2 separate regions of the Homo sapiens genome follow, and region 1 is linked to region 2. A link means that fine-mapping ties the variant in region 2 to the expression of a gene that starts in the linked region. Tissue or cell type: T cells. Region 2 holds a variant in brackets; the other region holds the start of a gene. All regions are shown on one strand. Distances are from middle to middle.

The links. PIP is the estimated chance that this variant, and not a neighbour inherited with it, causes the effect. A credible set is the group of variants that fine-mapping cannot tell apart.
Region 1: it holds the start of S100A8, and the variant in region 2 is the best candidate, but not a certain one, in a credible set for the expression of S100A8 in T cells (TOPMed, PIP 0.55).

What each region holds. Positions count from the first base shown.
Region 1 is chr1:153,389,000-153,394,146 of GRCh38, reverse strand. It overlaps S100A8 (S100 calcium binding protein A8), which reads left to right and starts at 3,074. Exons shown (of 3, transcript NM_002964.5): 1 at 3,074-3,106; 2 at 3,590-3,752; 3 at 3,904-4,115. The coding sequence starts at 3,612. The coding sequence ends at 4,044. RefSeq lists a silencer at 3,867-4,067.
Region 2 is chr1:153,360,712-153,365,858 of GRCh38, reverse strand. S100A9 (S100 calcium binding protein A9) reads right to left here. Exons shown (of 3, transcript NM_002965.4): 3 at 4,836-5,147. The coding sequence ends at 5,021. Among named protein-coding and RNA genes, the nearest start is that of S100A9, 5.4 kb to the right of the region's middle. The variant G/C (reference allele first, on the strand shown) is at 2,317.

The DNA.
Region 1 (5,147 bases), 28 kb before region 2:
ACATGACCAGGTTCCGCTCCCTCTAGGTTGCCCCATGTCCGCTAGGCTGCTTACAGCCTCTGCCTTTCCCCAGATGTGCTTACCCAAGTCCTGATACCTTTTGCTGCAAGGTCAGTTCAGCCTGGCTCCTGCTGTCCCCAAAGCACCCAAGGCTGTCCAGGGGCGCAGTTTCTGGGGAGGGGGCGACATTTCACGATCTTGCTGGTCAGCCTGTACATGATGTGGGAAGGAGGTCACCACTCAGGACTCCCTCACTGGACCAGGGGAAGGACCTGAAGTAATGCCCTGTGCCTCAGTTTCCCCATCTGTCAAATAGGGATAATTATACTTGTAATGTCCACATCACTAGGTTGCTGGGAATATCAAATGAGTCAGTGGATGCAAAATACTTTGAAAATATGATATGGTGCTTTGAGGCAGGTGCTGTTATGCTGGTCACATAGGATAGTACGTGGTGAATAATAGGTATTAACCAAGGGTGGATCCTTGGTTGAAAACTTGTCATGTCAGAAATGGCGTTGTTTTCCTAGATGGAGCTTGATTCATCTTTTGTCAAGGAAGTCAGACTGCATTTGTTTGATGAATTTATACCCTGCCTTCTTCCAGAAATGATTTAAGATGGCTGATTGTGATAAAGAGAATTTCTGCCTTGGATAAGGGAAGGGTCAAACTTAATTTTGTATTCATTTATCCCTCAATAAGTATTAATTGAACATGTAGTAGCTGCCAGGCCCTAGGGTTGTGAAAAGAAATGTGATTTCTTTTCTAAATGGTCTCCTGGTCCCAAAGAAAAGACAGACAATAAACAAGTGAATCATAACATAGCAGGGCAAATGCTGTGATGGGTAAGGATTTGGGTAGCATGGAGGAGAGAAGAACTAATTCTGCCTTGATGGGGTGAGGGCAGGTGGATCAGGGATGGACTTGGAGCAGATGATGCCTGAGCTGGATCAGGAATGGTGAGGAGGACATTACAGGGACAAAAGGCATTACAGGCAGGAATAGGAAGTGGATGCTGTCACATCACATCATGAGTCACTCAATCATTTGATACGCTGAATTACTATGTCTCTCTGTGGGGCTTAGTTTCCTCATCTGTACAATGGGCATTATAATAGTACATACGTCATTGGATTAGTGTGAGAATTAAATGATCAATGCAAATAAAGCAGCACTTAGAATAGTTCCCGGACATGGGAAAAGCTCAGTGAGTGTGAACTAGTATTTTGTCATGATTTGCTCTGATCAGTGATTGTGGCTGCTGTTATTGTGTGTGCTGGGCACTGTGCTGGGTCCCCAATGGCTCACATCCAGAGAGAGCTGGATTTATTTTGGAGGGTGAAAGACTCCCTGCTATGTTTATGCAATGGCTCATGCCCTTGTGCAATGCAGAGGGACCCCAAGCAGCCTCCATCTCCCAGGGCACGGTGGATCCCCAGCTTCACAGAACAGGAGAGCTGTGGAGGAGTGTGGGCAGCAGGGTAGGAATGGATTTAGCCCTCGGCAACAACACATGTCCCCACAAAACATTTTCTTCATCCATTCATGTGTTGAGGGACACTTGGGTTGCTTCCACCTTTTGGCTCTTGTAAATAATGCTGCTATGAACATGAATGTACAAACATCTGTTTGAATCCCTGCATTCAATTCTTTTGCATATATACCCAGGAGCAGAATGATGGATCATATGGTAATTCTGTGTTTATTTATTTGAGGAACAAACTTGCCGTTTTCCATAACAGCTGCACTATTTTACATTCCCACTAACAGTGCATTAGGCTTCCAATTCTCTATGCCCTCACCAACACTTGTTTTCTGGGTTTTAAAAGAAGTAGTAGTCATCCTTGTAGGTGTCAGGTGGTATCTCATTGTCGTTTTGCTTCATGTTTTCCTAAAGATTAGTAATTTTCATATGCTTATTGACCATTTGTATATCTTCTTCGGAGAAGTGTCTATTTGAGTCTTTTCCCCAATTTTTGATTGGTTTGTTTGTTTTTTGTTGTTGAGTTGTAGGGATTCTTTTATATTCTGGATATTAATCCCTTATCAGATATTTGTTTTACAAATATTTTCTTTGTAACAACAGAAACACACCACAGTCTTCAAGGTTGGAAGCCAGTTAATCTGAGTAGCATTTTGTTAGTGGTGGGGAGAGGATTTGTTCCTCCTGAAATCCTGGGGAATTGGCCACCTCCTCTTCTCCTCTTAGGCATGAAGCGCGTCTGGCTTCTCCAAAGAACTCTTCCCCTCCACTACCTCAGAGTTAGCTTCCTCTCTTCAGCCAGTGATCCTGGGGTCCCAGACACAATAATTAACCAAGAGAGGGTGAAAGGCTCCCTGCTGTGTTTATGCAATGGCTCAGGCCCTTGTGAAGTGCCGAGGGACCCCAAGCAGCCTCCATCTCCCAGGGCATGGTCCATCCCCAGCTTCACAGAACAGGAAAGCTGTGGAGGAGTGTGGGCAGCAGGGTAGGAATGGATATAGCCCTTGGCAACAACACATTTCCCCACAAAGCACCCACCCAAAAGAACAACAACGATAGTTTTAGTTTTTAGTAATGAGAACAATAGTTCTCATGACTAAAAGCCATCAGCCAGGACACGTGTTCTCAACCCTTTTGCGGTCTTTGGACCCTTTGAAACTCTGACAGAAGCCATGGAGGAATGTTCTCACTGAGTGCATGCACTCAAAATGATGCATTCAACTTCAATTCAGTTTCAGGGATGTATGGCCTGACCACCAATGCAGGGGATTAGCAATCGCAATAGTGGAGAGGGCATGGGAGTGGGAATCTGGCTGGATCAAGCAAGTGGATGCCAGCAGCCCAGAAAAAGAGCCCCCCTACCTGCTTTTTCCTTCTGGGCACTATTGCCCAGCAAATGCCTTCCTCTTTCCGCTTCTCCTACCTCCCCACCCAAAATTTTCATTCTGCACAGTGATTGCCACATTCACCTGGTTGAGAAACCAGAGACTGTAGCAACTCTGGCAGGGAGAAGCTGTCTCTGATGGCCTGAAGCTGTGGGCAGCTGGCCAAGCCTAACCGCTATAAAAAGGAGCTGCCTCTCAGCCCTGCATGTCTCTTGTCAGCTGTCTTTCAGAAGACCTGGTAAGTGGGACTGTCTGGGTTGGCCCCGCACTTTGGGCTTCTCTTGGGGAGGGTCAGGGAAGTGGAGCAGCCTTCCTGAGAGAGGAGAGAGAAAGCTCAGGGAGGTCTGGAGCAAAGATACTCCTGGAGGTGGGGAGTGAGGCAGGGATAAGGAAGGAGAGTATCCTCCAGCACCTTCCAGTGGGTAAGGGCACATTGTCTCCTAGGCTGGACTTTTCTTGAGCAGAGGGTGGGGTGGTAAGGAAAGTCTACGGGCCCCGTGTGTGTGCACATGTCTCTGTGTGAATGGACCCTTCCCCTTCCCACACGTGTATCCCTATCATCCCACCCTTCCCACCAGAGCCATAGCCATCTGCTGGTTTGGTTATTTGGAGAGTGCAGGCCAGGACAAGGCCATCGCTTGGGGCATGAATCCTCTGCGTACTGCCCTGGCCAGATGCAAATTCCCTGCCATGGGATTCCCCAGAAGGTTCTGTTTTTCAGGTGGGGCAAGTCCGTGGGCATCATGTTGACCGAGCTGGAGAAAGCCTTGAACTCTATCATCGACGTCTACCACAAGTACTCCCTGATAAAGGGGAATTTCCATGCCGTCTACAGGGATGACCTGAAGAAATTGCTAGAGACCGAGTGTCCTCAGTATATCAGGGTGAGGAGGGGCTGGGTGTGGCGGGGGCTCTCTGCCTGGTCCTGGGGCTGCCCTGGGCCAGCGGTCCTCCCTGCCACCCTTCATAGATGGCTATGCCTCGGCTCTCTCTGAGATCTTTAAACTCTGGCTTCTTCCTCCTCAATCTTGACAGAAAAAGGGTGCAGACGTCTGGTTCAAAGAGTTGGATATCAACACTGATGGTGCAGTTAACTTCCAGGAGTTCCTCATTCTGGTGATAAAGATGGGCGTGGCAGCCCACAAAAAAAGCCATGAAGAAAGCCACAAAGAGTAGCTGAGTTACTGGGCCCAGAGGCTGGGCCCCTGGACATGTACCTGCAGAATAATAAAGTCATCAATACCTCATGCCTCTCTCTTATGCTTTTGTGGAATGAGGTTCCTCGGTGTGGAGGGAGGGTTGGAAAACCCAAAGGAAGAAAAAGAAATCTATGTTATCCCACCCTACCTCTCACAAGCCTTTCCTGCTTTACCCCTCACCTGGCCTCTGCCCCACATTCCCTTCCAGCCCCTCCATCTTGAGCCATTGGATTTGAGGCTTAAGGATTCCAAAAAGTCCATGACACTATAGCTGATGATTTTACTAGTGGTTCTGAAATGGGTCGGGGATTTGGGAACAGGGTGGTAGTATAAGAACAACTGATACTGTTCTCTAAGCTAAATTTTAGCTTCCAGCTAAATGTCTTAGATGTGGCTCTTGGGAAATTAGAGTGATAGCTACATAGAAGTGTGTGGGTGTGTGTGTGTGTGTCTGTGTGTGTGTGTGTGAGAGAGAGACAGACAGAAAGAGAGCAAGAGAGGGAAGGGGGGAGAGGCTGATTGTGTGTGTGGTGTGATGTAGGTGGACAATGTTCAGAGTCCTCCATTAACAGGATAATCCTCACACCTGTCCACATACCTGTAGTTTGTCCTTGGGGATTTTGAAAATTTTTCCTCCCTCTCCACTCCCAAACTCCCAACTCAATTAAATGATAAAGGAATAGGCAAATAGGAAAATAAATTAGTAAAACTTAAGTCAAAGAATAGGTTATTCATACGCTGCCCTATGGGATTCTATGCTTTGGTGATCAGAAAATTATCTAAAAAATACTTCCCAAGGGCTGGTACAAGGGGAAGGCCAGAAGACGAGTGGTTCTTCTCTGAGGTGGACATTAAAAAAAGAAGAAAATGAAGGGGAACCTTTTGACAAGAATGTCACCCCAAACTGGATTTTCATGCTGTGGTGTGGGGAATTTTCTGTTGTCCTCACTTAGGTGCTGGGGCAGTGGTGTTAGTGATGGGTAAAAAGGTAGGAAGCTGTCACCAGAATCACTAAACCAGGGTTCTTAACTTGTCTGTCTATACATCTCTGAAATTGGGTTGAAGTTGTGTGCATCATTT
Region 2 (5,147 bases):
CAATTTTGGGTACGTGGGCAAGAGTGGGAGAACTCATGCAGAAAAGGAAAGCCTAGATGTAGTTGTTTTGAGCCAGCACCAATAGCGGTGCTCTGTGTTTAGTTGGGACTCTGCATTCCGTGGGACACTCAGGATGGAGGCCAGCTGGCTGTCGCTCAGGGGCTCCCTTTCCCTGTCTCCTGTGTCTGGGAGTGGATCTCTGAAGACAGGGGTGATCTAATCATCCAGGGACTGATTGTCGTCTTAGGATAGAGAAACTGTTTCAGGTCAGAGCCCCAAGGGGCAATAGGACTTGAGAAACCAGTTGTTTCAGTCCTGCTGTCACTTTGGTAATTGGAGTGTCAAAATCCATGACACGGGGCTTTCTAAAATATATGTTTTAAGCAACTGCCGGAAGAGGGGGCAGTGCATTGGGGTTGGATTATGGAGCTTACTTCAGGGCAGGGCTGCATCAGGGTTGTGTAAGGTTGGCTCACCGGGCTGGTGAAAGCTGAGATCTTCCTTCCTGGAAAGGTCTTGGCAAACAGCATGAAATGATCTTATTTATCATGTTGCAGTCACACCTCTCCTAATTGAGGTGAAGCTTGGGGTAGTTTGAGGCTCTAGCTTTACTTTTTCTGAGAAGCACCGCTTGGACTCTTAAGTGCTCACCTGGGCTCTTGCAACAGACTCCCCACAGGCCATGTGCCTGGGGTCTCATTCCCACCCCAAACCCATCCCATAAAACACAGATAGAGAAACTTCTATGAAATGCAAATGTGATTATATCATTGCCCTCCCTGAAGCCTTCGGGGCTCTGCCCCTGTTCTGCTGAATGGAGTGTGAGTTCCTTGGCCTGGTACCTATCCTGTTCTCATCTGTCTCTCTTACCTCTCCCTGCCACGCCCCCAGTGCTCCTCATTCGCCCTCAAACCCCACGCCTGCCCATTTCCAGGCCTTTGCATACATGGTCTCCTGAAGCACCTTCATGTTTATCCCGGGATGTCTCCAGGTACCAGCCTTGATGTCACACTGATACTTACCCCTCCATGGAGATGGCCCCAGTGAAGGGCATCATTCCCACCTCAAAGTCCCACCGAGCTACATCCCACCGAAATCTTTTAGCTGGACCTCCCTGGCCTCTCATTTTCCACATCAGATTAATTTGAGGAGCTGTCTTGTCTCCCTGCAGGCCCGAGAACTCTTTGACAACATGGACAAGCTTTATTTATCATGAAGGCCCCTCAGCATTATACTGTGCCTGACACATAGTAAGTCTGCAGTTAATGTCTGTTGAGTGAATGAAGGGACATACAAGTGAGTGGACAAGTGAATTCATTTCTCCCCCAAGTTCTGGAGCCATCCCACCACCACCCAGGCCCCAGACCACATTCAGAGCACTGTGAAGTGTCTGGGAAGAGTTTAGCAGCTTAGACTACTTCTGATCCTTCCTCATTCCTCCCAGGAAGGCATCTAGCAGTTCAGGTTCCACTGCTAACACCAGCCTGGAGGGCAACTCATTGTTGCAGGAATTGTTGGATAGTCATCTGAAGACAGGTTGTCTCTGATTCTTTAGTCACCATGGTGCTGGGAAAGTCCCCAAAGGTCATGTTTCCCCAAAGGACTCATTAATCACAGAGATAGCTACTGATTTCCACTTGGAGTGGGAATCTTAACCTTGACATGGACATGGACATGCTTGCTCTCTCTATCTGAGAAAAGAAGCCCACTCTGCTCTACTCAGCAGAATGAGGTTTTTTTTTTTTTTTTTTTTTTTGAAATGAAAGAGGCTAATGGGAATGAAGAGGTTAAGTCACCTTGATGAGTTCTGTTCAACTACGTTTAAAGAAAATTCCGCAGGGTGCAAGTGGCTTGTTGTCAGACCTTCCCCCAGGGTCTGAAACAATTGCCTACATGCAGACTGAGTTACTAGAGACAAGGTAAATGGAAGAATCCTTGTTACCTGAGGAGGTCTCTGGGTCATCCTGCCACTCAGCTGCTCTGCTCTCTGCCAGCCCCAGGTCTCCAGACAGCTGGCACCCCCAACCCCAGTTCCTGAGAGCCACTCCTACCTCACACCCACATTCGAGCAAAGCACCCATTTCTGCTCTAGAACCATCCTATCTTCACTTTGTGGATGAACAAGTGGATGGTCCATGCTGGGATCTTGAATGTGGGGGAAAATCAGCTATAGTCCCTGCTTTCAGGGGTTCATAGTCTTGGCAAATGAGTATTTGCCATTCAGTATTTGAAGTGCAATGGTGGAATTGTCAGAGTTCTGTGGGCCTGGAGGAGGAAGTCCCTATCTTCTTGAGAAGGGTGGATGGTGAGGAAGCA[G/C]TAACACTTGTTCCAAGGCTTGATGGATCCTAAGGGACTTACAAGAGACACCAGGATGGAGCACAGCATTTTTGGTGCAAAGGTGAAGAGGCTGGAGAAAGCCTGGATGTAATTTAGGGAAGGCGTTTTGAAGAAGTGGAGGAATAAACATGTGGATGGGAGGATGGATGATAAGGGGTTAGATTTGTTCTGTGTCCTCAAAGGGGAGGAAAAGTAGGACTAATGCTGGGTGGGCATGAGGAGATGGATTTCAGCTCAGTATAATGAGGGACATTCCAAGTGTCACTCCCAAAGGGGGAAACTCTCCTTTCCTGGAGGAATTCAGGCAGGGTTGGTTCAGTCACTTGGCAGGGATGTTGGCAAGAATCACTCTAGAGTGTGGGTGGGGCAGATTGGATTAAGTCCATAGTTTTCACACTTTTTTCAAGACAAATCTCTTCCTTCAAATCAAATTGGTCTGATTGAACAGGGGGTGGAGGGGCCCTCCGATTCCATCAACTTGCTGCTCCTTACCTTCAGGTTTGAGATTCTGTAATGCTAATGCAGAAGCCTTCCATTTGCAGGTTTTGATCTCCTCTTGCTTTTTTTTCTCCACATCATCCCTTGAGAAGAGAGCATAGAACACGTGAGAAACCTAGGCCATTATACAGGCAATATTTGCTGAGAACCTTCTATGTAGCAGCCACTACTCTAGGTGCTGAGAATAAATCAGAAAAAAAAAACAGATGGACTTTGCTCTCTTGGAGTTATCAGTCTGGAGGGGTAGGCAGAGTCATAAACATATTTAGGCACATTGTGATAAGTAGTGGTGGGCAGAGGGCCTAGGGGGAGCACTTACCACCCTACTGGAAGCATCTGGTCTAAGGCCCTCCAATCCCCAGGATGCTTCTCTCTCCTCATTACCAAGCTGTGTTCAGAAGGGAGTGAAGACAGTGACTCCTCCCTGGATGTGAGCATGGGAGCAGAAGGGCTGTCAGAAAATGAGTGTCCCCAGCTGTCAGGTCTCCAAGTCAGGCACAGAAGGGACTGAGGAGGGCTTCTAGACTCTGCTGCCTAAGCTCTCAGCCTGAGACAGTTCCTGGAAACATCCTCATACCCTCGAGTGGGAGCCCTTAAAACCCTGCACCCAGAGCGGAGCCCCCAGGCCCTTAAAGCAGGAGTCTGCAACAGGCAGGTTGGGGGCACAACCATAGCCAGGCTGTGAGGGGAGGGCTGAAATCCAACACTGGCAGCTCTATATCTTCCTGCTCTGCACTGGGGAAGGGGCTGGGGAGGTGCAGCCAGTGGGGCAGATATGATTCAAGCTACTTTTCGTACTGCATTATTTTGAGCAACTCTGTCATTTGTGTGACTTTGGACTAGTCTCTTCTCCATATTACACCTCGGTTTCTTCACTTATGAAAAGGGAGAGTAGGTGACTGCTAGTCTTCCCAGCTTCCCCAGATCCTAATTCTGTGAGTCTTCTTTCTGCTGAAAGGACAGGGGTCAGAGGACCTTGATCTGGACTCTGGTTTTTGGAAGGCCAAACCCCACTGGTTATAACCTAGGAAAGGGACTTTATAGCCAAAGGGCAGGAAGATGGCAGAGGAGTCCCTGAACTGAGCACTTGGATCTGGGGCAGCTTGAAGGGGGAGCTGCAGCAGTAGCCCTGAGGCAGCTAGGGCCAGGCCTGGTAGTAGGCTTTGCAGAGAGAAGCAGATACTTGTGCTGGGCCCAGCTCTCAGCTACCCACCAGAAAGGACAGCTGGCCCTCAAAGCTTAAAATCAGAATCTTCAGACCCCCAGGCTCTCTGGACCCAGAGCACAGACTCCTCCTGGTAGTCACGGAGTCTTTTAGCTGCAGAGCCCGGACTGGAGCTCATTTCTTCACTCTGCCATTCTGTTGAGACCAGGGTGGGCATAGGGCTAAGCTCTCAGACTCCCACTTGTGTGAGCACTCCCGTTGATTAGGGTGGCAGGTCTGTTAAGAGAGATCCAATTGCTCTCTTGGATCCAGAAAAAGTGTGAGAGTAAACACACCGGATCTGTCCTTGTTTCCACTGCCTGGGTGCCAGTATTCCTCCCCAGACATGGCACTATCTAGGTCCATTTCTGGAAGACTTTCAGAGGAATAGAATTCTGTTAGGAGAGAGAGAGGGCTGTGTAGACAGTGATGGGTGAAGACAGGCTTGGGGCTGGTTGGTGAGGTAGCAGGCATATCAAGGGGTAGAGATATGCCTTTTTGCTTTCTACAGTGTACAGTGACAAGGGCCATTTGTCAGGCTGGACAGGCTGGACAGGGTGTCTGAGATGGGGCAGGGAGCCTGGGATCTGAACAGTGGGGCCTGAAGTCAGAGGTGAGGACATGGTCAGGGAGGTGAGCCCAAGGGGCCCAGCACAGACCCATGTTTTGCTGCTTCTCATTTTGTTAATACTGAATGAGGGGGCTGAGTCACAGATAAGGACAGGGCTGTCTAATGCCCAGAGCCCTGGGAAGGCAGGGTTGGAGAAGAGGTGGAAGAAGCACACAGAGCACTGACTTGGAGGAAGAGACTTTATTTGGCCCCAGCCCCTAGCCCCACAGCCAAGACAGTTTGACATAACAGGCCCCGGGGCCCTGGTTGGGTAGAGGCAGGGTGGCCTGGCCTCCTGATTAGTGGCTGTGGCCGTGGCCACCATGACTGTGGCCGTGGCCGTGGCCACTGTGATCTTGGCCACTGTGGTCTTAGGGGGTGCCCTCCCCGAGGCCTGGCTTATGGTGGTGGCCAGGGCCCTCGTCACCCTCGTGCATCTTCTCGTGGGAGGCCCAGGTTAGCCTCGCCATCAGCATGATGAACTCCTCGAAGCTCAGC